Linked DNA regions of Homo sapiens: region 2 is linked to region 1. Evidence: fine-mapped QTL for protein levels in blood plasma. A gene starts in region 1. The other region holds a variant in brackets. All regions are shown on one strand. Distances are between the middles of the regions. Region 1 holds the start of TNFRSF1A (TNF receptor superfamily member 1A). Region 2 overlaps TNFRSF1A (TNF receptor superfamily member 1A).

What was found. PIP is the chance, under the fine-mapping model, that this variant and not a neighbour inherited with it causes the effect. Protein levels are from antibody-based Olink assays in UK Biobank. Linkage for the fine-mapping came from a reference panel and not from the study's own genotypes, which makes the PIPs less certain.
Region 2: its variant is fine-mapped to the plasma level of the TNFRSF1A protein (UK Biobank, PIP 0.98).

What each region holds. Positions count from the first base shown.
Region 1 is chr12:6,339,343-6,344,861 of GRCh38, forward strand. It overlaps TNFRSF1A (TNF receptor superfamily member 1A), which reads right to left and starts at 2,734. Exons shown (of 10, transcript NM_001065.4): 1 at 2,434-2,734. The coding sequence starts at 2,472. It also overlaps the pseudogene RN7SL391P. RefSeq lists an enhancer at 2,537-2,636.
Region 2 is chr12:6,330,050-6,333,561 of GRCh38, forward strand. It overlaps TNFRSF1A (TNF receptor superfamily member 1A), which reads right to left. Exons shown (of 10, transcript NM_001065.4): 4 at 3,318-3,467; 5 at 3,020-3,098; 6 at 804-877; 7 at 549-662; 8 at 218-246; 9 at 1-17. Among named protein-coding and RNA genes, the nearest start is that of TNFRSF1A, 10 kb to the right of the region's middle. RefSeq lists an enhancer at 189-318. The variant T/C (reference allele first, on the strand shown) is at 794.

The sequences.
Region 1 (5,519 bases):
CAAATAGTTAAGGGGCACAGTTAATGTGACAGGTCCCGTATGGGTGCTAGGGATGCTGAGGTGGATAATACACAGCTCGTGCTCTCAAGAGCTCTCACTTGAGTCAAAGACAGTCAGTTGTAGGCACTGAGATCTATACAGGGAGTGCTGCAGTTGCACAGTGAAGGACACTGAAGCAGCGTGGGGAAGCTCCTGAATTTTCTGGAGCTGAGCGCAGGAGCTGAGACCTGCTAAGCAAGGAAAGGCAGTGGACTAAGGCTCACCTCCTTCCCCAGTTCCTCCTCCTCCCAACTGGTGCTCCAGGACACCACATCACAATGCATTTGTGGATATTTTCCTCGGGATTGCTCTGAAATCATTTTTCACTGTAAGCCATCTTGGTTACTAGGCTGTAAGCTCTTTGAGAGCAGCAAAATCCTGTTTGCTTTGCCACAGTCTCTCCTGTATCATTCTTCCCTACTCCCCTACCCCACTTCTCTCTCTCTCTCTCTCTCTCTCTCACACACACACACACACACACACACACACACACACTGTGAGCTCTGCATTGCCCACTGAATGGTGAGAAATTCAGAAGGATGTTGCATTCCCTTTGTTTTCCCTTTCCTCCAGCTCCAGGCCAGGCTTCTGTCCCTTAGGAGACATAATCCCACCTGGGCTGAAGCACCCCAGGACGCAGGCACTTCCCTTTACCTGTTCAGGCTACCTTTACCCTCTGTTTTCCCAACACAGGTAGCCACCCAGTAATTACTACTAGTCACAGCAATATAAAAACTTTATTGAGTGCTTTCTATTTGCTACAACCTATTCCCCTGATGGACTGTCAAAGCTGTGGGCAGGGATTTTGTTCTCTGCTGTAATCCCAGCACCTATCACAGTGTCTAGCCCAGAGCGCACACTTAATAAATCAAATGAACACTTAACATGTATCAGTCTATTCAATCTTCAAAACAACAGTATGAGGTCAAGACTGTGACACCCATTTTGGAGATAAAGAAACGAAGGCATGGAAGGTTAGGTTATATAAGCTGCTCTTGTTCATGCAGGAGGTATGTGAGGGAGCCAGGGGCCGCCCCCAAACAGAAAACAGAAGCAGGATGTCAGGGCAGCTGGCTGGTGGGGAGACCGTGGGGGAAGGACAGTGGGAAGAAGGGAAGAGCGGGTGGGACTAAGGAGGCAGGAGGAGGCAGAAGAAGAAGAGTGAGACCCTGACCAGAGACGTGCTGCCTGGGGACCTGGGGCCGGGACCAGAGCGGAGCAGAGAGGAGGGGAAGGAGGATTAGCGAGAAAAGATTTCAAAAAAAGAGGCTCTGAGAAGTCTGAGGAGAGTCTGGGGAGATTGCTGGAAGAAAGGAATGGTAGGAGAGGAAGAGTATAAGGCACTAAAGAGAGGGGAGGTAGGCGCAGCCTTCAGAGGCCGGGCAGGGCAGGGAAAATCTGCCTGACTAGATGGGCCCAGGACATCTGAACAGGATGATTCCCGGACCAAGACGTGGAGGACGATCAAGGATACATTGAAACAAGGCTGAGGCCAGAGAAAGGGACATTTTCCAGTGACGAAAACAACTTTCTACCAACTTCCCCAAACTGAACTGTAGAATAAGAAACCAAGGGATTGTTGTTTAGGTCTGTGAGAAGCAGCGGGGAGGGGAAGCTGGAGGACAGGCCCAGGGACACTGACCAGGTGGGGGTAGGACTAGCTCCCTGGGAAGGCTCAGTCCCACAGCGGCTACCTGCCTAGCAGCAGGCAAAAGGGTAAAGAATGTCCCCAGGTGAGAGGCCGGGGCTTGGCCAGGGCACTGGGGACACTGTCCACTGGGTTGCCCTGCCCCATCCAGTGTCCCAGCCCATTCTCAAATACCTCCCACCATGAGCATCCCAAACCCACCACACCAGCCCATCCCCACTCCTCAACTCACTCCCCCACTTCACCAGCCGCCAAAATCCTGCCCTACAGGGTGTGCTCCACCAAGTTCCACAGGCAGCCTCGCCTCCCCACGGCCCAACACCCTCCAGGCCAGCCAGCTGACCGGAGGGACAGAATTCAGAACCGTCTGGACTCCCCGAGCACTAATCTTCCTACTCCCACTCCCTTCTTTTCCCCGCCAAATCTGCCCCACCCTGGGCCTATCTCCTGCCCACATTCCCTTGGCCGCCCACAAACTTCCACCGCTGTCAGGGGCCAGGGCTTCCTTTTACTCTCTCCCTTTCAAACTTCTCCCATTCCCCTGCCTCAGCGCAGCCCCTACTCCAAAAGGCGGATGAATGGGGAACCCCACACTGGCAGTGGCTGAGGTTAGGACCTGCAGGCCTGAGGCTGGCGCCAGGACCAGGCCCGGGCAGGAGAGGCTCGGCCCCCTCCCGGAGAGGGCCCACGCCAGCCGGAAGGTGCCTCGCCCACCAGCCCACTCTTCCCTTTGTCCCTGGTCTCACCAGTGGCAGCAGCAGGTCAGGCACGGTGGAGAGGCCCATGCCAGACAGCTATGGCCTCTCACTCCCCCATTTGGGCTCAGGGCAGTGTGGCAGCGGCAGTGCTGGGGCTTCCCGGGACTCGGTCTGTCCAGGACGTCCCAAGTGCCTTGGGGTGACAGTTGAGGGTTGAGACTCGGGCATAGAGATCACGGCCTGGTCCCAGTGATCTTGAACCCCAAAGGCCAGAACTGGAGCCTCAGTCCAGAGAATTCTGAGAAAATTAAAGCAGAGAGGAGGGGAGAGAAGGTGGGAGGGGAAGAGTGAGGCAGTGTTGCAACAGCGGGACAGGAAGAGCTGGAGGAGGAGGCCACAGGAGGCGGGAGGAGGAGGCCCAACGTTCTTTAACTCTTTGTAGTCCAGTCACAAGCACAGGAGTCCCAGATCTGGCTGCCTTGTGCCCCCAACCCACCAATCCGACCACTCCCAACCAAACACCAAGGGGCAATAAGCCCCTTGCCCACATCACTAGCCTTTCCCAGATGGATCACAGCAGTGAAAAGATCCAGAGTCTGGGAGTCAAATTCTCTGGGTTCCAATTCAGAATGCTTAGCTTTTTAGCTAAGAATGTGTCTTGGACACATAAATGAACTTCTCAGACACATAACTGAAACTGTCTGGATCTGTTTTCCAATTTGCAGAGTGGAGATAACCTGTCTCCTGGGGTTCCTGTAAGGATTTGTTCAGATGGGAGAGATATAGATAAGCGTCCGACACATGATAGGTACTCCATGTCCCTTAGTAATCCTCCCCTTTACTCCAGAGTTCTTCACTAGCCTCCTAGTCTCCCTCTTTCTTGGGAATTTACTGATCCAATCCAAAACTCAAAGTAAGTCCCAACCCTCGTTTTCTGCCCTGACTGGGTGCCTGCCATTCCTCACCCCAGGTCTCATCCAGTCTCTGCCTGGCCAGGTCCCCCCACCCTGCCCCACTGTTGATCCTGGCTCTGCCACCAATCATGCGACATCAGGCAACTCCTCTCCTAAGCCTCTGTTGGTTCCTTGTTTATTAAACAGGGGTAACAATGTCTGCCCACCTACATGGGGAAAGTGATGCCATGAGAATCAATGAGACGTATCCACGAAGCTGCCGTGGAAATAAAGATACCTCCATCAGGTGTTCCTAGCATATTCCCAGTGCCCTTTTCCTAAATATTCCAATACATCAATTATAACTCACCTTACAGATCATCGACTACAACCCCCTAGGTTTTTTTATTTCTTCGTTTGCTTGTTTTTCATTTTTGTTTTTGTTTTGAGGGTCCGCTCCGTTTCCCAGGCTGGAGTGCAGTGGTACCATCGCAGCTCACTGCAGCCTCGACCTCCCAGGTTCAAGTAATCCTCCCACCTCAGCCTCCCAAGCAGCTGGGACTATAGGTGCATACCACCACGCCTGGGTAATTTTTGTATTTTTTGTAGAGACAGGGTCTCACCATGTTACACAGGCAGGTCTTGAACTCCTGGGCCCAAATGATCTGCCCACCTCAGCCTCCTAAAGTGCTAGGATTACAGGTGTGAGCCACCGTGCCCACCCAACTGCCCGGTTTTATAGAGGAGAAAACTGAGGTCCAGAAACCCAATGTGCCAGGAGGCAGAGCCAACAGAGAACCCCAGACTCCCGACTGCCGGTCCAAGGGCCCCTTTGGCTATGAGAGACACACTGCCACTTTTTCTGTCACTGAGTCAGACCCCACATCCTGACTCTGGTTACTTTATGCCATCCTCATTGATGCAGACATCTCCCAAGAGAATCCTACAACAAAGGTACCACATTTACCCAACTATCTTCTTGGTACAATGACCTTCCCTACATCCAGCCCCGCCCAAGGGCCTGCAGCTGCTGAGGCTGCTAGAAATGCAGGCAGACAGAGAAGAGGGAGGTCCTAGGGCTTTGGAACTTGAAACCAGAGCTCCTCACCCCTTATCCCTCTGAGATGACCTCCCAGCCCCAAGTCCACCGTCCCCTGGCTCTTCCTGGCTTCCCCTCTGTGATCCGCAGATGAGAATGGAGCTTCAGTGTCCCTCACTGCGGGGGGAGCTGACTTTACTCCACCCCATCGTCCAGCTTCTGGAGAACTGTAGGGTTGAAGCTGGATTCAGAAAGGAAGCAGCTCACCACCATCACAAAGGGAGACCCCAGGGACAGGAGAAGCGAACCCAAAGCAGTGTTCTTGAAGAAGCAGGAGCCTCAGAATCAAGTGCAAGTTTCCAGTATGAAGCAGCGAGAAGAACCTCGGTCTGCTCATCTAAAAAATGGGAAACCTGCTGGTACCCTTCACAGAGCTAGCTTGATGCTTAAATCAAGCATATAAAGTGTTTGGCAAGTGTTTGCCATATATTAAGCATTTAGTAAGTGGTAGCAATTAATTTTTTTTTTGAAACAGGAGCTTGCTCTCACCCAGGCTAAAGTGCAATGGTGCAATCATAGCTCACCTAACCTAGAACTACTGGCCTCAAGCTAGCCTCCCACATCAGCCTTCCGAGTGGCTAAGACTACCATCGCACACCACTATGCCCAGCTAGTTGTATTAATGATTAATAACAACTTCAGAAGGATAAGTGATACAGGGGAGTATGGTATGTGAGAGGGCGGCAAAAAAAAAAAAAAAAAGCAGAGTGCGGTGGCTCACGCCTGCAATCCCAGCACTTTGGGAGGCTGAGGTGGGCGGATCACAAGGTCAGGAGTTCGAGACCAACCTGACCAACATGGTGAAACCCTGTCTCTACTAAATATACAAAATTAGCCAGGCGTGGTGGCGCGTGCCTGTAATCCCAGCTACTCAGGAGGCTGAGGCAGGAGAATTGCTTGAACCCAGGAGGCAGAGGTTGCAGTGAGCCGAGATCCTGCCAGTGCACTCCAGCCTGGGTGACAGAGCGAGACTCTGTATCAAAAAAAGAAACCAACTTCAATGTCCTATTTTTTTTTTTGATAGAGTTTCACTCTTGTTGCCCAGGCTGAAGTGCAGTGGCACAATCTCGGCTCACTGCAACCTCTGACTCCCGGATTCAAGCAATTCTCCTGCCTCAGCCTCCCGAGTAGCTAGGATTATA
Region 2 (3,512 bases), 10 kb before region 1:
GTTCCTTCAAGCTCCCCCTGAAAGAGAGAAGGTGGCGCAGCATTAGTGCGGCAGCGAAAACCAGCCCCGGCCCTCTTTATTCTACGTGGGGGTTGGGACTTAGAGGGAATGAGGCGAGCCCCCGGAAAGTGAAGGATGATTCCAGGGGATCTGAGCATTAGGCAATTATAAGGAATGGTCAGGGACATTTGGGAGTAACTCTCTCATTTCATCTCACCTCTTTTTCAGGTGTCGATTTCCCACAAACTGAGGAAAAAGAAAGAAAGCATCATAAATTTCACTTCCTCTCTCAGCCCTGGCACCCTGGACTCAGCTGGCAGTGGGGACTTGTGGTGACATGCCTCAGGGCCTATGTGGCCCCAGGGACGAGAGAGCTACTGATGCAGCTCGACATCTCCCCAGCCATCCAGGGCCACCTTCTGCCCAGAGTCCCCAGCGGTATGAACTGAGGGGACACTCCTCACCTCCCTCCACACATGTCCATCGCACCCACCCATGTCCTCCCTCACCCCCACCAGCTCCCTCTCCCTCCCAAAGCCCCCACTCACCAATGGAGTAGAGCTTGGACTTCCACCGTTGGTAGCGATACATTAAACCAATGAAGAGGAGGGATAAAAGGCAAAGACCAAAGAAAATGACCAGGGGCAACAGCACTGTGGTGCCTGCAGACAAAGCAGGTGTTGGTCAGAGGAGCGGGCAGAGGGGGGCCGCAGGGATAGATGGATGGGTGGGATGGATGGACGGGTGGGGGCAAGAAGAGGGAGAGGGCAGGTGAGCATGGGCACCAGGTCAC[T/C]TCTCCTCACCTGAGTCCTCAGTGCCCTTAACATTCTCAATCTGGGGTAGGCACAACTTCGTGCACTCCAGGCTTTTCTTACAGCTAAAAGAAGAGACGGCACTGGTGAACAGAGGCCCTACCATTGGAGGAACACAGAAAAACAACCACACAGATTGTTGGACATCCTTTCTTTACAAATATTTTTGCTGTCTCTTGATATAATTTGTTTTGGGAACTGATGCAGAAGAATGAAACACAGTTAATCATAGAATCATTTAATTTTAGAATTGGCAGGGATCTTGAAAAGGCTGTGTAGAAAATGTGAAAAGCAGTCAGGGTCAGGGTGTAAATTCCAGTTCATTCCTTGGCTAGCAGTGTGAATCTAGGCAAGCCATTAACCCCCAAGCCTCGGTTTCCTCATCACCACAGGGATCGCCCACCTCTCAGGATTGAGGATTAAGCAAAATCATTATGCCTCATTTAATAAGTGCTTGAGAAGGTAGCCAGCTAGCTGTTATGGGATTGTTGTTTCATCACTGTTTTGCTGATAAGAATCCTTTGGCAAAGAGAGGTTAAAGGGCTTTTTCTTAAATGACACTGCTAGTTACAGTACCTGACTTCGGGGAGTCGGGGTCAAACATGCATGTGAAAAATTTAAAAACACATGTTACTGGGGCAGCCAGAGAGCACCCTGTAGAACTAGCAGATCTTCCATGTTGGGAGTTGTCACTGGACAGTGTGGAGTGATGGGAACTCTATGGGGTGGTGCTGGAAGGAACTTGAGAGAGTGAGTTCCCAGCAGGAAGCTGAAAGCAGGGAGAGGCACTTTAGCCCACCACTCAAGCTCATGGTGAGAACCACATAGAATGGTATAAAAGTGATTTCAAGAAGAGATGAAGCCGGCTGGGTGCAGTGGCTCACGGCTGTAATCCCAGCACTTTGGGAGGCAGAGGCAGGTGGATCACCAGGAGTTTGAGACCAGCCTGACCAAGATGGTGAAACCCCATCTCTACTAAAAATACAAAAATTAGCCAGGCATGGTGGCACGTGCCTGTAATCCCAGCTACTTGGGAGGCTGAAGCAGGAGAATTGCTTGAATCTGGGAGGCAGAGGTTGCAGTGAGCCGAGATCGCGCCACTGCATTCCAGCCTGGGCGACAGAGCAGGACTCTGTGTCAAAAAAAAAAAAAAAAAAAAAAAAGAAGATTAATGGAAAATAAATAGTTTTGTGTCAGACGTGTTGTAGGTTTTGTTTGTTTCTTTGTTTTTGGTTCTCACAAATTCACCAAATGAATGTCATTATGCTTACTTTAAATATAAGAAATCTAAGGCCCAGGCCAGGCGTGGTGGCTCATGCCCGTAATCCTAGCACTTTGGGAGGCTGAGGCGGAAGATCGCTTGAGCCCAGGAGTCCGAGGCCAGCCTGGGCAATATAGTAGGACCCTGTCTCTACAAAAAGTAAAACATTAGCTGGGTGTAGTGGTGTGTGCCTCTAATCCCAGCTACTCAGGAGGCTAAGGCAAGAGGATGGCTTGAGCCCTGGAGGTGGAGGCTGAGCCACGGTTGCACCACTGCACTCCAGCCTGGGTGACAGAGTGAAACCCTGTCTCAAAAAAAAAAAAAAAAAAAAAACACCAAAAGAAAAGTCAGGCTCAGAGATGTTAAGAAACTTGCCCAACGTCACATAGCCAGTAAGTGGCTATGCTGGGGTTCAAACTCTGAGAGCCCTCAGAGTTTATTCTTTGCAAGTGAGTGACAAGAACAGCCTCTGTGGAGCCAGGAGTAAGGAGGCCTGGACAGTGACTAATGAGGAAATACCATATTGCATCAAACCTAAGACGCCATCAAGAATAAAAGGCACTTTTCTTTACATTACTACCCAGACGCAAACAGAGCTGCCAATTCAACCATGATGAGTCACCAGTTATAGGAGGTTTGATTTCAGAGCTATAAGAGTGTATGTCCTAGAACCAATGAGCTATCGTAGATCCAAGAATCTACATATCTGAGTTGGAAGGGCTGCCAGCCCTTGGGGCATGATCTTCCATCCTCAAAGACTTCTTCAGATTTGAAGAGCAAGGGGAAGGACTGCCTGGTGTCTTAACGAAGTGTCTCCTACTCAGCCAGTAGGACCCTGAGCACTCTGGGGCATCCTGGCATCTGTTGCCCAGCTAATGGTTCCCACCAGTCACCCGTCCCAACCCATGCCACCATCCAGTGCCCAGCAGCTCTCAGAGATACTCACTTACTACAGGAGACACACTCGTTTTCTCTTAGAAAGAAACCTGCATGGCAGGTGCACACGGTGTTCTGTTTCTCCTGGCCTGTAGGGAGAAGTGCGGCACAGCTAAAGGAGAAGCGCCTGCACCCCCACCCCACAGGACAGAGGAAGTGACGAGGGACAGGGTGGGGGCGGCCAGAGAGGAGTTGGTTGTCAGACCCACAGAATACAGGAGGGGGAAGGAAAGGAAGTGCCACCGCATGGGGAAGGGGCCAACCCCTGGGGTGGGGAGAGGGCTTGGCCTCAGGAGAGCTGCGCTCACAGGAGAGGTGCACGGTCCCATTGAGGCAGAGGCTGCAATTGAAGCACTGGAAAAGGTTTTCACTCCAATAATGCCGGTACTGGTTCTTCCTGCAGCCACACACGGTGTCCCGGTCCACTGTGCAAGAAGAGATCTCCACCTGACCCATTTCTGGTGAGGGGAGAAGATGGGGTATGAGTCCTGCATCCTCCTGTC